Homo sapiens: one gene and its partners. The protein of the gene in region 1 purifies or fractionates together with the protein of each later gene. This does not show direct contact. Each region holds a gene or a part of one and is shown on either strand. Other genes may lie near its edges.

Region 1 (4,062 bases):
AGGAGTTATTTCAGTGTAGGGAGTGTAGGAGATAAGAGGGAGGATGGTGAGAGGAGGACAGGAAGGTAGGCAGAGGCTGGATCATGGTGGCCCTTGCAGGTCTCGGTAAAGAGTTTGATATTTGTTTCAAGTGCAAGAGGAAGTCAATGGAGGACTTTTAAGCAAAGAGACATCATCTTGTTTATATTTGTAAAAGATCACTCTGGCTTCTCTATAAAGAATGAATTATAAGGGTTAAGACTGGATGCTGATGGGAGACTATTGTGTCCCTGCAGCCTCAGTAGCACTAATGGAGAAGTTCGGGTGATAGCAGGAGAAAGCTGGAGAAGAGAAGCTGGATTCAGGATGCAATCTGAACTTGCTGATTGATCAGAGGCAGGGAGTGAGGGAAAGAGAGGAATCAATAATGACTCCTGGGTGATTGACTGGAATGACAGGGAGGATAGATGGTGGTGGTGTTTGCTGTGATGAAGACTGTGAAAAGACAGGGCTTGGGAGACTGCACATTCCTTTTCTCTGGGTAAACAGAGTCCCTGCCACTATCCAGGGCCCTGCTCTTTAGGTGGCTTCATCTTATCTCTCAGTTGTGGGGCAAGGAGTCCACAGGGCCCAAGGTCCATGCCTGCCTAAAGGCTGTATTTTCCCATCCCCACCCAGACTTCTAGGGTGGCCAGCAGATAGCTATTTGGTTCTGTGTGGGTGCGTTGTGTGTGTGTGTGTGTGTGTATGTGTGGTGTGCGGTGTGGGTGTGGTGTATGTGGGGGTGTGTGCGCTGTTTGTGTGTGTCGTATGGTGTGTGTGTGTAATGTGTGGTGTGTGTGTGGATAGGCGTGGGTGGTATGGTATGGGGGAGTATATGGTGTACGTATGTGTGCGTGGTATGTATGTGGTATGTGTAGTGTGGTATGTATGGGTATGTGGTGTGTGTGTAGAATGTGTATATATGTGGTGTGTGCATACGGCATGTGGGTGGGTATGTGTAGTGTATATATGTGGAATGTGTGGGGGGCAGCATTTGTGTGCATGTATGCTGTGTGTATGTGTGGTGTGTGTGATGTGTATGTGTGTGTGTGGTGTGTTATGTGTGTATGTTGCATGTATGTGTGATATGTATGGGTATGTGGTGTGTATATGGTATGTGTATGTGTTGTATGTGGTATGTGTGGGGAGGTTGTGTGTGGCATGTGTGTGGTGTATGTGTTATGTATGGTGTTTGGTATATGTGGTGTGGGTATGTGGTGTGTATGTGGTATGTGTGATGTGCATGGTGTGTGGTGTGTGGTGTGTGTATGGGATAGTGTAGTGTGTGTATGTGGTACGTGATTGGGAGGTGGCATGTGTATGTGTGTGTATGGTGTGTATGTAGTATGTGAGAGGGTGTATGTGTATGGTATATGTGGGATGCATGTGTGTATGCGTGCAGCCCCTGGATGTGAGGGCTGGATCAGGCATGTGAGGGGCCCCCTCTCAGAAAGCACAGAACTAGGCATGAGAAGGGAAGGTGGTGGCCGTCCATCAGTCCAGTATCTTCACAGCACTTGTTACCTAGAAATAGGATCATCATTTGCATCATGTCTGTATCAAAGTTCGTCACACTCCTCCGTGCCACAGAGATTGTGCCAAGATTGAGGCCCCAAAAAGCGGAGAGAGTAGGTGAAAAGCTTAACCTGCCTCACAATTTTATCAGGGCCCAGGCACAAGGACTGAGAGTTCATGTGGGAGCAATAACACCAGTGGTCACTCTCCCGAGGGAGACCCACTCAGTCCGCCATTGAATCACTGACTCAGGACTGTGCCAGATGGTGTAAAAAAGGCTACTCTTGTCCTCATGCCCAGCCTGGGAGGGTGCAACATGGAGATGCAATGCCCACTCTTCTGATCTTGACTCTCACCTCCTTTGTACCCTGCAGATATGTGGAACCTGCCTCTGGACAGCCGCTACGTCACCTTAACTGGGACCATCACACGAGGGAAGAAAAAGGGTCAGATGGTGGACATCCATGTCACATTGACAGAGAAAGAGCTGCAGGAACTGACCAAACCTAAAGAGTCATCAAGGGAAACGACGCCTGAAGGAAGAATGGCCTGCCAGATGGGAGCTGACCGTGGGCCCCATGTGGTCCTCTGGACGCTGATCTGCCTGCCTGTGGTTTTCATCCTTTCTTTTGTTGTCTCTTTCTACTACGGCACTATCACCTGGTACAACATCTTCCTCGTGTATAATGAGGAAAGGACCTTCTGGCACAAGATCTCGTATTGCCCTTGCCTCGTTCTCTTCTATCCAGTGCTCATCATGGCCATGGCTTCTTCCCTCGGCCTCTACGCTGCTGTGGTCCAGCTCTCGTGGTCCTGGGAAGCATGGTGGCAAGCTGCCCGGGACATGGAGAAAGGCTTCTGTGGCTGGCTCTGCAGCAAGCTGGGTCTGGAGGACTGTTCTCCCTACAGCATTGTGGAGTTGCTTGAATCCGACAATATCTCAAGCACTCTCTCCAACAAGGACCCCATCCAAGAAGTAGAAACCTCCACGGTCTAAACTCCCAACAACTTACTCCCTCCTCTGGCCCCAGTAGCCTATATATCATCTTAAAATTCCAGCAGATTATTTCTTTAAATTACCCCCTACTCTCCGCAGTTCTTCTGGGAAATCAGAGTCCATACTGATCAGTTTTACCATCTTGAGGGTTCCAGGAGGGCATGGAGCAGACAAGCAATTGTGCCAAAGCAGTTCACCCAATGGACAAACTCTTTTTGATTCCCTGCCCTAAAATCACCATTTATTTAGGACAATGGAACTCTGCTGTGTGTCGTTTTGGGAGCCTGGAAGTGTTACTGGTGCCTGGAACTGAGGGGAGTATGTGACTAAATGTGTCAGGGAGAATAAAGAACCTCGGGGTAACCAAATCCACCAAGATAATAGACAGGGATGGAGTGAGACATTTAGGAAGCTGGACTACCACAGTGTAGCAGAAGGTAAAGATTTGTGTGTATCATTTAGATTTAGATTTAGCTGCATAGAATTAAAACCCTAAAATATCAGTGGCTTAAACAAGATAGAAGTGTATTTCTTTCTTGTGCAGAAGAAGTCTGGAGGCAGACCATCCTGGGACCCTGTGAAGTAATCCAGGTCCCAGGCTTCTTCTATTTCTCTACCATTAGTAGGATGTGACCCTTCTCACCCTTATCCCCAACATCCCAGTGCTGATTACATCTTCAGCCATCACATCCATGTTTCTGATAAAATAGAGGAAAGGGCAGAGAAGCACACACCCTTCCTGTTCAAGGAGACTTCCCAGAAGTCCCACTCGATTCTTCTTATATCTCATTGGCAAGACCTCAGTCACATGATGTCATGAGCAAAAGAGGCTGGAAATGTAGTTGTTTGGCTGGGTAGCTATATTCTCAGCTAAATACTGGGTTCACGCTAATTGGCAAGAAAAAGGAAGAATGGTTATTTGGGTTTTGTTTTGTTTTGTTTTGTTTCGCTTTAGAGACGGAGTCTCACTCTGTTGCCGAGGCTGGAGTGCAGTGGCACTATCTCGGCTCACTGCAACCTTCGCCTCCTGGGTTCAAGCAATTCTTGTGCCTTGGCCTCCCCAGTAGCTGGGATTACAGGTGCGTGCCACCATACCCGGCTAATTTTTGTATTTTTTTTTTAGTAGAGATGGGGTTTCACCATGTGCCCAGGCTGGTCTTGAACTCCTGACCTCAGGTGATCCGCCTGCCTCGGCCTCCCAAAATGCTGGGATTGTAGGCAAGAATGGTTATCTTGGTAGGCAAGTCAGAATCTTTGCCTCACAATGATCATTTAAATACATTCAGAACCCCCAAACTGCTAATATGGTTTTATTTATTTATTTATTCATTCATTTGTTTATTCATTTATTTATTTAGGCCTGAATCTTACACAGAGAATTTATATATAGATATTAGCTACATATACTTTGAATATGCTATACATCGATATTAGCACCTCACGTACTTTGCAATTAAGCTTCTGTAATGTCATGTGATTTGTTTTTGGAAAGGAATAGTGGACAGGAGAGTACAATTTATAATAGTAGC
Region 2 (5,380 bases), on another chromosome or scaffold:
GAGCGGGGTGCGGAAGAGGGGTAACAGGGCCATGCCTGGCCAGTGATCAAAGTGTTCCTGGATATCAGCCGACCTCCCCCTACACCCTAGATGCCCTCCGTCCACTACCCCCTGGAGGGCATTTGTCATGTGACGGAATTCCATGGAGAATTGTTATTTAATCACGTGCTCATTGTAGAAAAAAAAAATTAAGTACAAAACGTAAAACAGAGGAGCATTGGATATGACATGTAATTCTACTCCCCGGGGGTAGCCACCATGACTGTTTCAGCCATGTTTGAATGACACTGCCCTTCCGGTTGCCCACTGCCTGGACTGGGTGGCGACTCCATCCTCTCCTGGCAGTAGGAACCCTGGGGACTCAGCCCTGCTGGGTCACTCCCTGTTCATCCTGACACCAGGGGGCACCAGAGTTCCAGAACGGGGATTACATTGCTGTGGGTACTGCTAAGACAAGTCATTCCCACACAGTCATGTCACCTACCCCACCCAGTATCCCTGTCACCCAGCCTGCCTAGAGGGGAAGGGAACATAGGAATTTCATAGTCATCAAATACCTATTCATCCTTGCTTTCCTCCCTCACCTGCAGCCTGGCTTCTTGGCAGCCAGACAGGTGGGCCAGTTGGAATTAATAGTGAATAAATTCTGTGGCCAAAAGCCAGGTGGCCAGAGGGCAGAGAGAGGCCTGCCAGAGGTAAGAGTCTTGGGCCCCCAGATGGGCAGCAGCTCTCCTTTCCTCAGCCTTTCTCAGCCTGGGCCTTTCCTTGGCTGAGATAGACTCTGCCGTCCAACCCCTGGCCTAGAGCCTCAGTGTTGGGCAGAGCCCTCATGTGTCTCCCTTGTGTTTTGGAAGCCTAATTGACCGGAGGGGATTTGTGCAGTCCGACACCGTGTTGCCCTCACCCATCAGAAGCGATGAGCCAGCCTGCAGAGCCAAGCCTGATGCCAGCATGGTAGGAGGCCACCCCTGACCACGGCTCAGTACTTGCCACCTGCTGGCCTGTCTGACCCTCCGCACTCACCTGCCGGGACCCTCCCTATTCCATCCAAGGGAAGCAGAACTGCCAAAGACTCAAGTCTTTTCATATTTATTTCCCATCCTGCGTGGCTTTCCCTGAACTGTTCCGTGGCTGTGCCCTCTGCTCCCCAAACCCAGGTTCCCACAGCCTTGGGCCCTAGGTACCCCAGCTGATCAGTGCCAGGAGAGACCAGAGCCTCTGGAGGCTACCCAGGGGACCACACCAAGTCCTTGCCTGTGCCGGGCGAGCCCTGTGTGAGTGAGGCTGTGAACTGAGCGTGAGGCCTCCCAGGTGGGGGAACTGCTTGGGCCTTGCTGAGCCAGGGTCCTCAGGGTGAAGCAGGACTGAGGAGTGGCCAGCTCTGGATAGCTGGCTGTGGAGAGGAAGCCTCCATGGGCTGCTTTGGTCTGTGGGCTCCTTCATTCCCTTGGTGATAATTTCCCTTTATTCTGTGGGATTTTTGGTGGGGTTTTCCCCCCTTTTTTATGGAGTTGGCCAATAGGATTGAGTTGGGGCTCCAGTAGAGAAGGCAGGGTTGGTGGTGGGTGGGGGCAGCCTGTATCAGACAAAGGTAAATCAGCCAGCCAGGCACCCACAGCCTCAGCTCCTGTGCAGTTCCTGGGCAGCACAGTGGAAGTGGGAGCCTGGTCCTTCCCCTGCCCATGGAGAGCTCTTTAAGGGATCCCAGCCTGCCCCTCCACTTCTCTCCCAAGCCAGGTCCCGGCATGGGTGGGTTATGCTCATGCTGGCAATACTTGAAACGGGTTTATTAATGCTGGGTATTTTGCACAATTTTATAGACCTCTTTTCTACATAGTCTTTTTTAAATGGAAGGAGAAAATGTCAGCCACATTACTGTCTGTGTAGTGCCAGGTGAAGGGTTATCAGAAGGCTGGTTGGTTTTAATAAGTTTATTCCAAGAGACCTTCTGGCTGGAATGAGTGAGAGTGTGTGTGCATGTGTGTGTGTGTTCATGTGTGCCCTGTATGAATGTGGCTGGCTCCCATATCCCCTGGGCTGCCCCCTGCCCCATCCCCTTTGAGTGTCAGAAGCACTCTGAGCCAAGGGGACAGGGGGCACGTGCACTGGTCACGAGAAAACCCTGGGCTCCCACTGGGGCTCAGCCCAGCCTCCTATCTTTCCTTCTTCTATGGACTTCAGACAGCCAGTGTCTGGGGACTCTGCCACTCTACCCCCAGCCCTACCCACCAGCCCCCAGGTGAGGCTTCCAGCTGGGACCTGCCCAGACAGGCTGAGCCTGGGCGTGGTGGGTGGGGTGATGGCTCTGGGGAGCGGCTGCCATCCTACAAGCCACACCCCCTCCTCTGAGCTCTGAATATGGGACCCAGTGCCAGGAGCTGGAAGACAAGGTGTTTCTGCCAAACGGGGACCTCCATCCAGAGAAAAGGAAGAAGGTGCAGGGTGGGCCAAGAGGCAAGTGAAGGTTGGCCTGAGTCTGGGCCGGAAACTCAGAGGATGTTTCTCCTCTGCTGGGAGCTGTAGTTTCTTATCAAAATAGATATTGTTCCACCATCCCCCTCCTTGGCCCTTCAAGTGGGCTGAAGCCCTTGGAAAGTGACATAGGAAGTCCCCAGATCTTGCCCTTCTCACTCCAGAGGCTAGTGGTCACAGACAGCTGGGAATGGCAGCCACAGAGGGTCCCCTCTGGGAGAAACAGCTTCACCCCAGCCTCAGGGCCCTGGGCCATCACTGCAGTGGCCCTGGGAGGTGAGGAAGAAGCTGGCTAGAGGAGGGGGCTCCCACCTACCTTTTATTTAAGCCAGTATTCTTTGTTCCTGCTTGTAATAAAACTTCAGTTTATAAGAGTTGCTTTGCTTTGGTTTGGTTTTTGTTTGCTTTTCCTTTGCTGAGGCCCCAACTGGGAGCCCTCTGTTCTTTCAGACAAATTTGGTTCTTTCCTGGGGAGACTGTGAGAAGGCAGGCAGCCCAGTGATCTGGCTACATTTTCCCTCACCTGGCTGGAGCTCTGTCCGCTGGAGGAAGAGCAGAGAGGGCTGCGGCTGAGCCCCCATGGGCACGTGAAAAGAGGCCATCCTGTCCCCTCTTTGTCCCCTCCACCTTCCCCTGCCTCAGGGGCTTGGAGACCCCCAAATTCTTCTTCCCTACTGCCTTTCCACTCCGATCCCCAATGAGTGCCCAGCTAAGAAAATGTTTGAGACAGTAGATTCCAGTTTGAGAGCCGGAGCTTCCCTGGCTACCACCTCCAACCTGGGCACCAGGGCCCAGCCAGACAACTCATAACACTGGCCCACCTCTCTGGTATCTCCCTCAGGAGGACACCTGTCAGGATTTTGCCATCTCCTGCACAGCCTGAGGGGAGCTAACAGGCCTCTTTGCAGAGGGTTAGCTGGTAAGACCGTTTCTTCCCTGTCGGCCAGCACTGCCCGCTCCCCTCACACACCATCTCATCCTCATCGCATGCCTCGCCAACCCCATGGAGCCCGTCCATCTGTCTGGTGTGTGGTGCGGTGTGTGTGCTGGTGGTGGTAGGGTCTCCAGGGACTCCCCGCTAAGCAGAAGGATCGGGATATAGGGCAAGGCTAAAAGCCCAGCCCCATTGTGGACTGAGGAAGTAGCTTCTCGCAGAGCAGCTCTCCAGCTGGAAGAGGAGGTGGAGGGTGAGGCTGGGGAGAGGATGGCGAACCTGCCCTGAGGTGCTTGGGTCTGTGCTGGTGGGGTCCTGGTATGCAGGGGCCACCGGTCACTAACACTCTTATGTCCTGGCTTTCTGTCCCCGCTGAGCTTTCTCTCACCCGCCCGTTTTCTCTCCTGCTTCATTGCCTGCTGCCTAAGCCTTGGCCCTTCTCTCGGGCAGAGGCAGGTGCTGTGGCAGCACCTCTCCCCACCACCGGGGCCCCTGCAGGCCGCCTCCCTCCTCCCAGGCCTGCTAACCCTCTCTCTTCTCCTTCTTTGCTGTCCTGCCGGGGATCTCCAGTGTGTGCGGGGGCTTAAGGACCTCCTGAGGACCGCTGCTCTCTGCCTCTCCAGGAATGGCCTGGGGGGAGCCAGGCACCCGGCACCTCCACCTGCCTAACCTGTGGCCCATCTGCCACCATCTGTGCCTACAGGGTCTGCCCCCCAGCCTGCCCGGCCTGTGTGCTCTCTAGGACCCCCATAGGGGGCAGGGGCTGGCCTCTTTGCCCCATTCCCGCTCCATGCCGGCCAGAGTGTAGAAAGCCATAACGCAGCCATCAGCACAATAATGTGACTCTACGCTGATATGCTCCCTCTCTCCTCCACTGACTTCCCCTTCCCGGATTTGTGAGGTGTCAAGACTAGGAATCTGGCCTTAGAGCCTGCCCCTCCACCCCCTCAGATCAGGCATAGCCATAGTCAAGCCCAGCAGGTTTCCTCAGGAGCTGTCTGGGGTGTTGATGGTGGATGACGCTGCTGAACAAGTTTGGTGACTGTTCTAAGCACAACTGGCTTGATACTGTTCCCACGGCCTGTCCACCTCCCACCCCCAACCCTCCACCAGAGTAGGTAGGATGTAGGGAGGGTGCGTGCCTCCTTTGCTCTAGGCACTGAGGGACCAAGCTAGCCGTGCACAGCCCCATACACTTCAGGGGACTAAAGGAAAGAGCTGAGCCAAGGAAAATCAGCTGAGCCCAGGGCTGGGGGCTGCTTGTCTGCTATCCTGTACCTTTTTTTTTTTTAACCAAAATAAAGATTCCCCTCTTCTTGCCATACCATTGGCTGTCTGGTGGCGCCTTTACTTTGGGGCCCAGGGATGGGACCTGCAGTGGGCGTGTGGAACATATGGCTCCCCCTCGCTCCCAGCTTTCTTCCAGCTGGCCAGTGCTGCTCTGGAGATTTACAAGCACAACGAAGCCAGGAGGGACACAGGAAAAGTGGCTGACATCCTTTTCACTCTGCCCCTCCAGAACTCTTGGTCTCAATTCCAGACACCACCCAGCCTTAGCTGACCTCTGGATTCTGATAGGTCCCAGTGCAGGCTGAGACAGAGGGTTTAACTCCAGTTTGGGACTGCCATACCCATGAACTGAGCCCAGCCCAGGGTAACGATCTCATGGAAACTTCTCTCTCCCCAGTTGCTGCACTACATCAAGATACACACATGTGCATACACTGTACTATGGGCTAAAAAAATAGCTACCGCTACCGTTCAGCAAGGGCTTGCCGAGTCCCGGGCCCATTTTCTCATCTTAACCTGTGAGGAGGATGATGTCAGCCTTTTTACAGATGAGGGAACTGAGACTCAAGGAAGAAACAGGAGCTGCCCAAGGTCACCCAGCTGGCAAAGCAGCAAATCCCAGATCGGAACCTGATCTCTGCCCCGAGCTCTGAGCCATCTGCACTACCCAAGGAATGAATACAG
Region 3 (5,380 bases), on another chromosome or scaffold:
AACTGGGTCATTTAAGAAATTGTAGTATAATTTTAAAGTACCTGGGGCCAGGTACGAATAACTCACACTGTAACTCCTTTTTTCTCCCCCCCTTTGTTTTTGAAACAAGGTCTTTCTCTGTTGCCTAGGCTGGAGTGCAGTGGCATGATCACTGCTCACTGCAGCCTCAAACTCCCAGGCTCAAGTGATCTTCCCACTTCAGCCTCCTGAGTAGCTGGAGACTGCAGGTGTGCACCACCACACCTGGCTATCTTTGTATTTTTGTAGAGATAGGGTTTTGTCATGTGCCCAGGATGGTCTTGAGCTCCCTGGCTTAGTGATCCCCCCATGCCCAGCCCACACTGTAGTTCTTGAGTTGATATCTCATTGAACCTGTCAGTGGTGTACAATTAAATTCTTGAAGAAAAGATAACCTTTAAAATTAATGACAATTGTGGTTCAAGCTCTTTTTATATTGCAGTGTCCTGAACGTGACTACATGACTGAATAACCTTTACTAATTCATCTCTCTTGTGTTTTAGATTCTTTCAGTGACCTGTATAGTTCCTATGTAATCTTTTACTTCCTGCTGCTGTCAGTGGTAATAATAATAATAAGTATTTTCAATGTGGAGTTCTATGCAGGTGAGTTTTCAAATGTTAACCTTCTTAGAAATATGCGAATTTATTTAACTAAGGGAAGACTTAGTACATTTTATATGTGAATGTGTTTTGTGTCAAAAATTTAAAAACGTATACAGAATCATATGCTTCAAATGTTGTACCTTAAAATTTATTTGGGTGCTAGTTTCTGTTTTAAAAATATTTTTAGACTTTTTAGGACAAATATTATATGATTCTACTTATACGAGGTATCTGGAGTACTCAAATTCATAGAGAAAGAAAGTAGAATGCTGGTTACCAGGCGCTGGGGGAGGGGGAGTGGAGAATTGCTGTTTAATGGGTAGAGTTGTGGAAGATGGAAAAGTTTGGGAGCTGGATGGTGGTAGTGGTTATACAACAATATGAGTGTACTTATGCCGCAGAACTGTGTACTTAAAAATGGTTCGAATAGTGAATTTTATTATTTTACCACAATAAAAAAATTTAGACCTTTTAATAGTTCATAACTAGTATTAAAGCTGTGATTTAGCAGATACATTATGAAAAGAATTCCTTTATAGGGAAGACCAGGTGATTTCTAAGTTTTTTTTTCAAATATAATAATCTATAATACTGTGATTAAAAAAAAACTTATGTTTTGCCTTGGAGAATCACCTGCTGGATTCCAGAGCTTTTAATTTTTCTGTTTCTCTTCATATTCTTTCTGCCTTTTCAGATTCCTTGAGACTGCCTTTAAGATACAAGTTGTGGCAGATTCACATAAGGAAAAAAAGATACAATAAGAAGCTTTTCCTGACTCTTATTTTTTTACTATAACATCATTTTCCTTTTTTTTTTTTGAGACAGAGTCTCGCTCTGTCGCCAGGCTAGAGTGCAGTGGTGCGATCTCAGCTTACTGCAATCTCTGCCTCCTGGGTTCAAGTGATTCTCCTGCCTCAGCCTCCGGAGTAGCTGGGATTACAGGCACGCGCCACCACGCCCGGCTAATTTTTGTATTTTTAGAAGAGAGGGGGTTTCACCATGTTGGCCAGGATGGTCTTGATCTCTTGACCTTGTGATCTGCCCTCGGCCTCCCAAGTGCTGGGATTACAGGCGTGAGCCACTGCACCCAGCCCATTTTCCTTTTTTTAAACTTAAAAAAAATTTTTTAAATGTACATGTTCCATATGTGCTAACATGTCTAAACCTTAAATTAGTTTATCATAATGTCATGTTTTAGATTTTACATTTCATTGATTATATGAATATTCTGTTTATTTATTTATTTTATTATTATTATCATTTTTGAGACGGAGTCTTGCTCTGTCGCCCAGGCTGGAGTGCAGTGGCGCGATTTCGGCTCACTGCAAGCTCTGCCTCCTAGGTTCACGCCGTTCTCCCGCCTCAGCCTCCCAAGTAGCTGGGACTACAGGCACCCGCCACCATGCCTGGCTAATTTTGTTTTTGTATTTTTAGTAGAGACGGGGTTTCACCATGTTAGCCAGGATGGTCTCAATCTCCTCACCTCGTGATCGGCCTGCCTTGGCCTTCCAAAGTGCTGGAATTACAGGCATGAGCCACCATGCTTGGCCTATTTATTATTTTTTTTGAGAGAAACAGATGCGGTAGGATCATAGAATACTCAGACCGGGAGGAATTTTTTTTTTTTGAGACGGAGTTTCACTCTTGTTGCCCAGGCTGGAGTGCAATGGCGTGATCTCGGCTCACCGCAACCTCTGCCTCCCGGTTTCAAGCGATTCTCCTACCTCAGCCTCCTGAGTAGCTGGGATTACAGGCAGGCACCACCACACCTGGCTAATTTTTTCTATTTTTAGTAGAGATGGGATTTCTCCATGTTGGTCAGGCAGGTCTCAAACTCCTGACCTCAGGTGATCGGCCTGCCTCGGCCTTCCAAAGTGTTGGGATTACAAGCATGAGCCACCGCGCCCAGCCTACATCATTTGCCTTTTTAGTTCTTCAACACTTCCTTGTAAAATCTGGCGTAAAATTTCAAATTCTGACTTTGGATGTTACAATACGTATCCTTTTCCCTTGCTTGCTTTCTGTTTTTGGTCTCCAAGATGGAGTCCAGCTTTGTCGCCCAGGCTGGAGTGCAGTGGCACGATCTCGGCTCACTGCAACCTCCACCTCCCAGGTGCAAGCAATTCTCCTGCCTCAGCCGCCTGAGTAGCTGGGATTACAGGCGTATGCCACCATGCCTGGCTAATTTTTGTATTTTTAGTAGAGACGGGGTTTCACCATGTTGGTCAGGCTGGTCTCGAACTCCCGACCTCAAGTGATCCGCTTGCCTTGACCTCCCAAAGTGCTGTGATTACAGGTGTGAGCCACTGGGCCCAGCCTCGCTTTCTTTCTTTTTTTTTGAGATGGAGTCTCACTCTGTTGCCCAGGCTGGAGTGCAGTGGTATGGTCTTGGCTCGCTGACGCCTCTGCCTCCCGGGTTCAAGTGATTCTCCTGCCTCAACCTCCTGAGTAGCTGGGATTACAGTTGCCTGCCACCTCGCCCGTCTATTTTTTGTATTTTTAGTAGAGGTGGGGTTTCACCATATTGGCCAGGCTGGTCTCAAACTCCTGAACTCATGATCTGCCCACCTTGGCCTCCCAAAGTGCTGGGATTACAGGCATGAGCCACTGCACTCAGCCTGCTTTCTTAATTCCTCACTATTGACTAGTAAGCTTTTTCCATGCAAGCCCTATTCGAAACTCCTTGGCTTACAGCCACACTTAAACAGAGTGTTCTTTCATACTCTCCCATATGCTTGGGTCATCTTCTGTATGTAATATGTCAGTTGAGGGGTCCCCAGCCAGTCCTTCTTAAAGCCTGACTATTCACTTTGGCTCATTCCTTCAGTAACCATCCCTTATGCATTTACTATATGCCATGCATTGTGTGGAGAGAAAAGAGAAATGATAGGTCCCATCTTTCTCCAGAGATCGTGATTAATGGAGAGACAGTAAACATGAAGCATATTTGATTACAGTACATTGGATGGTAAGAGCTTGTATAGGAGCACCACTTGCCCCAGCATGGGGGAACTTGAGGAGATGATCCTTAAACCAAGCCTTGCAGGATGAGTTGAATTAAGTAGACAAAGAAGGAAAATGATGTTCTAGAGAGAAGGTATAGCATATAAAAAGGCTTAGTGACATGAGAGGGTTTGGTATATTTAGAGTGTTATAAGTTAGTTGCACAGTCAGTAGGACCTTGTGGGCATTTCTGGTTGGGAGGGAGAGGTCATAGGAACCTCTTCCTCAAAGTATAAAGCACCTGAAACTTGTCCCTTCATACTTAATTTTCTACCTCCTGCCATCTCTTTACTTTGAGTATAGTAAGAGCAAAATACCTACATAGATAGATCAGGGAACCCTAGGCTAGCTGTTTCCAAAGGTAAACATCCCTCATGTCCTACCCATAGTTGCCTCCCTAGCTCATTTGCAGAAAATGTTTTTGGATTGTCTGAAGGGTATTAAAAATCCCTATATAAGCATTTATCTTAGCATTTATGTTGTCAGTATTTACCTACTTTATGGTTTATTTTTCGTAAGTGGATTATATATTGACAGTTTCAAATGCTGATGGCAGGAGTTCTTTTTAAAAAGTAGGCCAGGCATGGTGGCTCGTGCCTGTAATCCCAACACTTTGGGAGGCCAAGGTGGGTGGATCACCTGAGGTCAGGAGTTTGAGACCAGCCTGACCAACATGGTGAAACCCCATCTCTACTAAAAATACAAAAACTAGCCAGGCATGGTGGCAGGCACCGGTAATCCCAGCTACTTGGGAGGCTGAGGCAGGAGAATCGCTTGAATCCAGGAGGCAGAGGTTGCAGTGAGCCAAGATTGCGCCACTGCACTCCAGCCTGGGCAACAAGAGCGAAACTCCGTCTCAAAAATAAATAAAATAAAATAAAATAAAATAAATAAATAAATAAATAAAAAGTCAGTATTCAGGAGCTGAACCCAGTCACTCTCCCACACTGCAAGACCATTACAGTAGTCCATATATGAAAAAAAAAATCATTATTCTTTTATGGTGCTTAGGAGAATACTAGGATAGGCACTATTGGAACTATTAGGAAATTTTAATGAAAAATGTTGATCATGCTGTCCTTAGGTTTCATCTCTAGATTCTTTGGGTTTTTTTGTGTCTGTTTATTCATGCTTTCCTCAAATTTTTTTAACTTAGAATTTTTAACTTTAAATTTTTCTGTATTGTATTTGCGTTGACTGTGGATTTCTCTCTGCCTTTGGAACATTTGTGCAAGGATGAGAGGGGATAGTTTAGATCCTCTAACTGCATATGCTGTAGGTTATAAAGCCACAGTAATGTGTTTCCTTTGCAGTTGTGCCTTCTATTCCTTGCTCCAGACTAGCTCTGATAGGGAAGATCATTCATCCTCAGCAACTCATGCACTCATTTATTCATGCTGCAATGGGAATGGTGATGGCCTGGTGTGCTGCAGTGATAACCCAGGGCCAGTACAGCTTTCTTGTGGTTCCCTGCACTGGTACTAACAGGTAATATTAAATATATATTTCCTTAGGAATCTCATTTACTTACTAAGCCAAAGGTGACCTATATAGGTTAATCCTATGAGTATTCTTTGCTTTCCAGACTTCTGCAAAAGGTGCTTTTTGCATATATCAAGTGTTTTTAATATTTTGTGTTTATTGATTTCAGCAATTAAAAAAATTTATTATGTGCAAGGTGCTATGCGATTTATGAGAGTGACTCAAACATAGACTATAAGCTCTTTGAGAGTTGAGAACAATAGAGAAATTAA
Region 4 (5,380 bases), on another chromosome or scaffold:
TATTATTATTGTTATTTTTGCAAGCTTCAGCTAATTTGGAATTGTAGCTCTCCTGACATTATTCTTATAAGCTCATTCCACTCTCTTATAGACCATCATTACATGCCCTCTTTCCATCTTTTAAAATATGTCCTTTAAAAATCTGACCTGGGAGAAATCTCTGTGAAGCCGTGTTGGTTACTTAAGTGCCACCCCTCTTTTCTTCCTGAGAGGATCATTTGTGATTGCAGTTACAGTTGAACATTTGGAAGCTGCTCAACCCTCTTAAACCATTTTTCCTTCTGAATCTCATGCCATTGAATCATGCCTCTTTTCTTTGAATTTTTTGAAGTCCACCTTCCCCTCTTTGATTACCCTGAACTCCGAAATGACATAGTGACTCTCTCTGAATGTTCCTATCAATTTTCATTTTACCAACTATTTTTTTCTTCTTGGTCAGAATTAGGTCCAGAGTTGAAGTTCCCCTAATTGCTTCCTCTACCATCTGGGAGATAAAATTGTTACCAAAGTAAGTCAAGAACCTGTTGGGTGCCCTACTTCTAACCAAATGAGACTTCTAGTGGATATCTGGATGGTTGACACCCCCATCACCACACTTTCTTGCTTCTGTATGTGTATTGTGTTGTGACAAGGATGCATCATCTATATCTTCCATCGAGCTGAGCAGTCTGTTCTGTACTCCCCAACCATTAGCACTTCTATTGCTCTCTCCTTTTTCCTTCACTCACAAGCTCTTAGCATGTTTCTATCCCAAACTCATGCGTTTCCACATAGATGTATGTTTCTTGGCCAGTAGTGCTACTCTGCCTCTCCTCCTAAGAATACCATTTGAAATATAAATAAGCAAAGCAAGCAAGCTAGCCCCAACCATTCTTGGGTTCCCAGCCCAACAACTACAATCTTATAGCTAATTCCTCTGATACTGTATCTACCACTCAGTATTACAATCTCAATTTTCACTTCATTACCCTTGCCTCATATTTATATGTTGGCATCTGAAGCCTTAAGCATTTCTTCTGATGCCTGTCCCAGTTATTTTCTCCAGTGAATCACTTGTATAGTTTCAGCATCATTATGGTTCTTTCCAAGTCATGGATGCTGCCATCTGTAGAAATTGGTTTTATAGCTGTTTTTCTGGGCATTTTTCTCCCTACCTCACCACATTGTTTAAAGCCCCATTGATGGTTCCTGCCTGAAATTAGAGAGACTGGCTAAAGACCTTACAGACCCTTCCTAAGGCTAAGATTAACTAGTAGCCCCAGCCCTTACATTAGCTGTGAAGTTCAGCCTCCTTTTCCTAGCTGGCTATTGCAGTTTGTGGACAGTAAAAGTAACATTTGGTTTTACTTTCTGTTTATTTTCTCTCTTGTGGTCTGATGGAAATAAGTAGGGAAATGGCCACAAGTGAGGCAGTGGGGAAGGAGAGTGAAAGGATGGGTGCAGGACCTGCGTGGTCTGTTACAGCCTCACCACTTCCCTATTACATTCCCTTTCTTTGGCAGTGGGTTGTTCCTCATATGCTTTGGAAGGTTTAAATTCACAAGAACTCCCCATGTTCATTAATTATCCTTTTGGCTTCCCACCTAAGAGGGTTGTTGAAAAGATTATATGAGATGATATATGTTAAGTGCCTGGTACAGTGCTTAATATATACTAAGCAACAAGTGGTAGCTATTGTTGTTGAAGGCATGAGATTTAACTTGTTAGCTACTGTGGCTGAGTCAGATTTTGAGTTCTTCAGAAATAACACTACTTGTAGGTTCTTCCAGTGTTCTCTGAAGCAGAAAGTCAGTGCTAACTGTAAAGAGATGTTGAAGCACTGTGTTTTTTTTCAGTGAGTAACTTGATTTAACGAATTTCTTATTCTGAAGAAATCCTTAGATTGAAGATAATCTGTGTTTAGTTAACAGAAGTAAACCTGTATATAGCACCTCTAACTTTGAGTGTTGGAAGGAACTATTTAATAACAGCTGTTATCATCACCATCACTAGCTGACATTTATTGAGCACTTAACCACATGCTGGCTACTGTACTGAGCACTTTACATGCATCACCTTACTTAACCTTCACAACAACACTGTGAACAAAGATTCCATGTTGTTCTCCATCAGGGAGGCAGAGTAAGAACTTGCCCAAAGTGACACACTAATATAAAGGGTGAAGTCCACATGTGAGCCCCATGCTCTTAACACTACGCATCCTACCTCTCAAGCTAAAATACAGATGTTTCTTTTGTACCATTATTTTGTGTCAGCAACTACAAACAGGAGTGCATGAACCAGTTGGCCACTCTGCATGTTTTGGCGTAACTCCTTGCCTTTCTGCATGAGCTCCTACAGTCTATTACCATGTCCTTGGCTTTGTAATTGATGGTGGCTATTATCTGAATGAACAGGTGTGCAACTGCTTATATTCTCTTGGCTGAAGAGGAAGCAACAACCATTGCTGAAGCAGAAAAATTATTTAAGCAGGCCCTGAAGGCTGGAGATGGCTGTTACCGACGCTCTCAGCAGCTACAACATCATGGATCCCAGTATGAAGCCCAACATAGTAAGGTTTCCTGCAGGTTGATGCATTGGGGGATCAGAATTGTAAAAATTATTAATCAGAGCAAATTTTTAGTCCAGTTCAAAATATGATTCTCCTAGACAAGAGAAAATATTGGCTTTTGCTTTGTTTTTATTAATTTTCTTCTTTCCTATAAGTGCAGTTAGTAAATAATTAACTTACAGCTTCATTGCTGTTTATATTCACATTCTCTTTCCTGCCCATAGATTCCTAACCGCAGAAATAAATGGCAGTAACCTTTAATAGTAACCTTTTTTCCTCCTGAGTTCTTACATATTTCTGTTCATCAGTTGCTTCTGCTCACAACTTTAAAACCCAGATGGGAAACAGGATTTAAATTAGCCATAGTGTTAGCAAAGGTTTTATCTTATAGATCTTCTACAACATGGATTGAAATAGGACAATTAAGAATATAAGTTATTGGTGATTGTATCAGCATTTATCTCTTACATAAGAAACATTGGTATTGGCTTCCAGAGAGAAAGAGCCATGAGCTCCTAGTTATTTATCTTTTTTATATTAAAATAATGCCTTTTTAAACTCCCCAAAAAACGCCTTTTTAAATTTAAGATAACTCTTTAAAATCTGAGACCTTTCACTTCAGTATACTAAACTGAAAGCCAATGACATTTCGTGGGGGAACAGTATAGAAACAAAACAACGAAATCATTTCTGGAATTCCCTGAGCCCCTCGACTCATCAGTTTGTTTGTTGTTGAAGCAGAAATTTAGCAGTCCTTGTGGTAAGAGAGTTAAGTATTTCCATGGTCCAACCAAAATTTGAGAGTATTTCCATGGTCCAACCAAAATTCACAAAGTTATTTTGTTTCTCACTTAGTTTCTCCCTCCTGAAACTTAGAGAGTAGGGATGTATCTCCTTCATATTTGAGATTATAAAATTAAATGTTAACGTTAAACTTGGGTTTGGTGTAGAAACTGACTGCATTAGTCCCCATAACTAAGGTGCCAGCAAAATCTTTGCATTATAGCCTGCATATACATGAGTATGTCCTCACATGTACCACATCAATTCCTAAGTTTTTATTTTTATTCTGCAGCATATATATGCTAATAAAGTCTCTAATCACCATCTATGTCTCACTTTTTAATAAAAAAGTATTTTAGTGTAATGCAGTGCATTTTGAAGACATGTAGTAAATGTGTATTTTGTGAACTAAATGGAAATCAATACATAAAATTACATAACCTATAATACAACATTAATTTTCTTTCTTTTCTTCTCTAAATTAAATCTTTTCAACCTGTTGCCTAAATCCATCCAAAAATATAATCACATTTTTAAAATAATTTGTAGGTACTTGGCAGATTTTCAGCACACATCTTGTTCTCATTGTTTAAGTCTTGAAATGTTAGGACTTTGGTCTTAACATCTTTTAATAGCTGCATATTATACATGTACTTAATCTATAACAGGTGTGTCATATTTTCTCAAACATGGTAATTTTTATCGAGGATTAAGCACATGCATGTTCTCATTGGTCTGAAAACATATCCAACAAGACATATAATTAAATAAAAGATTAAGATTAGAAATTGTTAACGTACTTTTTAAGAGTCATTTTAGTGATTGTTGTTACAACTATTTAGCTTGTCAATTCTTTCTCTAACACTAGGGTAGTTTTTCATTTTGTTGCATACTCTATTGTCATATCTGGAATGTGTTATATTGCCATCTAAAATCAACTGCTTAGGGGACCTGGAGATGATTATGATGTCACTAGTGTTAGGGAAAGAATAATATAAAGCAGAAGTTTAAGATGAGGCTTCTCCAGACTTAATGTCAAGAATGAAAAAAAAATAGTTCATCAGGATGTAACCTGAGATTCACCTCTGCATCTTTACCAAAAGAATGCACGCTTGAAGAATGTGGAATTCCTGCTTGTAAACCGTATACACTGTGGGTATGTTCATTTTCGCAGCACTTTGTGGCAGATGATTTTATTTATTATCAAATATTCAACATCCTCACTCAAAAGCATGGATTAGGTAATTAGTCAGATGATTTGACCTTTGGGAGTCTAAGTGCTTTTACTTTACTTGATCTTCATTCTACTATTAACAAAGTTGTCAGTGCTATGAAAATTTCCTTTAGGGGCAAGGCAAATGGGCCTCTGTATTTTTTTTTTTTTTAAATGTTGGTGTTTTATATCTCCCTCTTCAGGACGAGACACCAATGTCTTGGTGTACATCAAAAGAAGGCTAGCAATGTGTGCCAGAAGACTCGGGAGGACCAGGGAAGCAGTGAAAATGATGAGAGATGTGAGTTTGAGTTTGTGTTTGGGATCAGTGGCTTACAGATATAGGAGCCCGCTGAATGGCCATAGCAGTCTGTACCAGTGATGGTGTGGTGGTCCCATGGGTTCTGGAGCCAGACTGTGTGGGGTTCAACTCTAGTTCCCAATTTACTAGATGAATGATGTATGTTGGGCAAGTTACTCAGCTTCTCTTTGCCCTAGTTTCTTCATCTCTAAAATGGGAACAACAATAACAGTCCTCACAATTACTTCTTAGAATTTTTTCGAGGACTAAATGAGATAATACATACAAGCTTCTAATAGAGTGGCTGGCATATTTTAAAAATGTCAATAGATGTCCTTATTAAACCTTTGGGGCTGCAGCTGGAAGCCAATAATGAGACCAGCCATGTTAGCAAACTGATTTTTTTTCTGTGTAGTTGTTAGGAAGATTCGAATTAATTATGGGTCAAATTACTACTCTCAAATTTAATAATATTATGAGTTAATCCTATTGTAGTTGTTTCAAGCATTTTCCTAGATTCTTGAACCAGGAT

Evidence for each region.
Region 2: the proteins of TMEM169 (region 1) and ZDHHC18 purify together in Homo sapiens (co-immunoprecipitation; 2 studies listed by BioGRID and IntAct, with this or other methods). This does not show direct contact.
Region 3: the proteins of TMEM169 (region 1) and NDC1 purify together in Homo sapiens (co-immunoprecipitation; 2 studies listed by BioGRID and IntAct, with this or other methods). This does not show direct contact.
Region 4: the proteins of TMEM169 (region 1) and ST7 purify together in Homo sapiens (co-immunoprecipitation; 2 studies listed by BioGRID and IntAct, with this or other methods). This does not show direct contact.

The regions. Positions count from the first base shown.
Region 1 is NC_000002.12:216,098,010-216,102,071, forward strand, and holds part of TMEM169 (transmembrane protein 169), read left to right. Parts: intron 1-1,910; coding exon 1,911-2,533; 3' UTR 2,534-4,062.
Region 2 is NC_000001.11:26,852,872-26,858,251, forward strand, and holds the end of ZDHHC18 (palmitoyltransferase ZDHHC18), read left to right. Parts: intron 1-854; coding exon 855-972; 3' UTR 973-4,733; downstream 4,734-5,380. UniProt on the Homo sapiens protein: Palmitoyltransferase that catalyzes the addition of palmitate onto various protein substrates, such as CGAS, HRAS and LCK. Acts as a negative regulator of the cGAS-STING pathway be mediating palmitoylation and inactivation of CGAS.
Region 3 is NC_000001.11:53,827,733-53,833,112, reverse strand, and holds part of NDC1 (nucleoporin NDC1), read left to right. Parts: intron 1-521; coding exon 522-623; intron 624-4,939; coding exon 4,940-5,114; intron 5,115-5,380. UniProt on the Homo sapiens protein: Component of the nuclear pore complex (NPC), which plays a key role in de novo assembly and insertion of NPC in the nuclear envelope.
Region 4 is NC_000007.14:117,133,685-117,139,064, forward strand, and holds part of ST7 (suppressor of tumorigenicity 7 protein), read left to right. Parts: intron 1-439; coding exon 440-508; intron 509-2,396; coding exon 2,397-2,551; intron 2,552-4,750; coding exon 4,751-4,848; intron 4,849-5,380. UniProt on the Homo sapiens protein: May act as a tumor suppressor.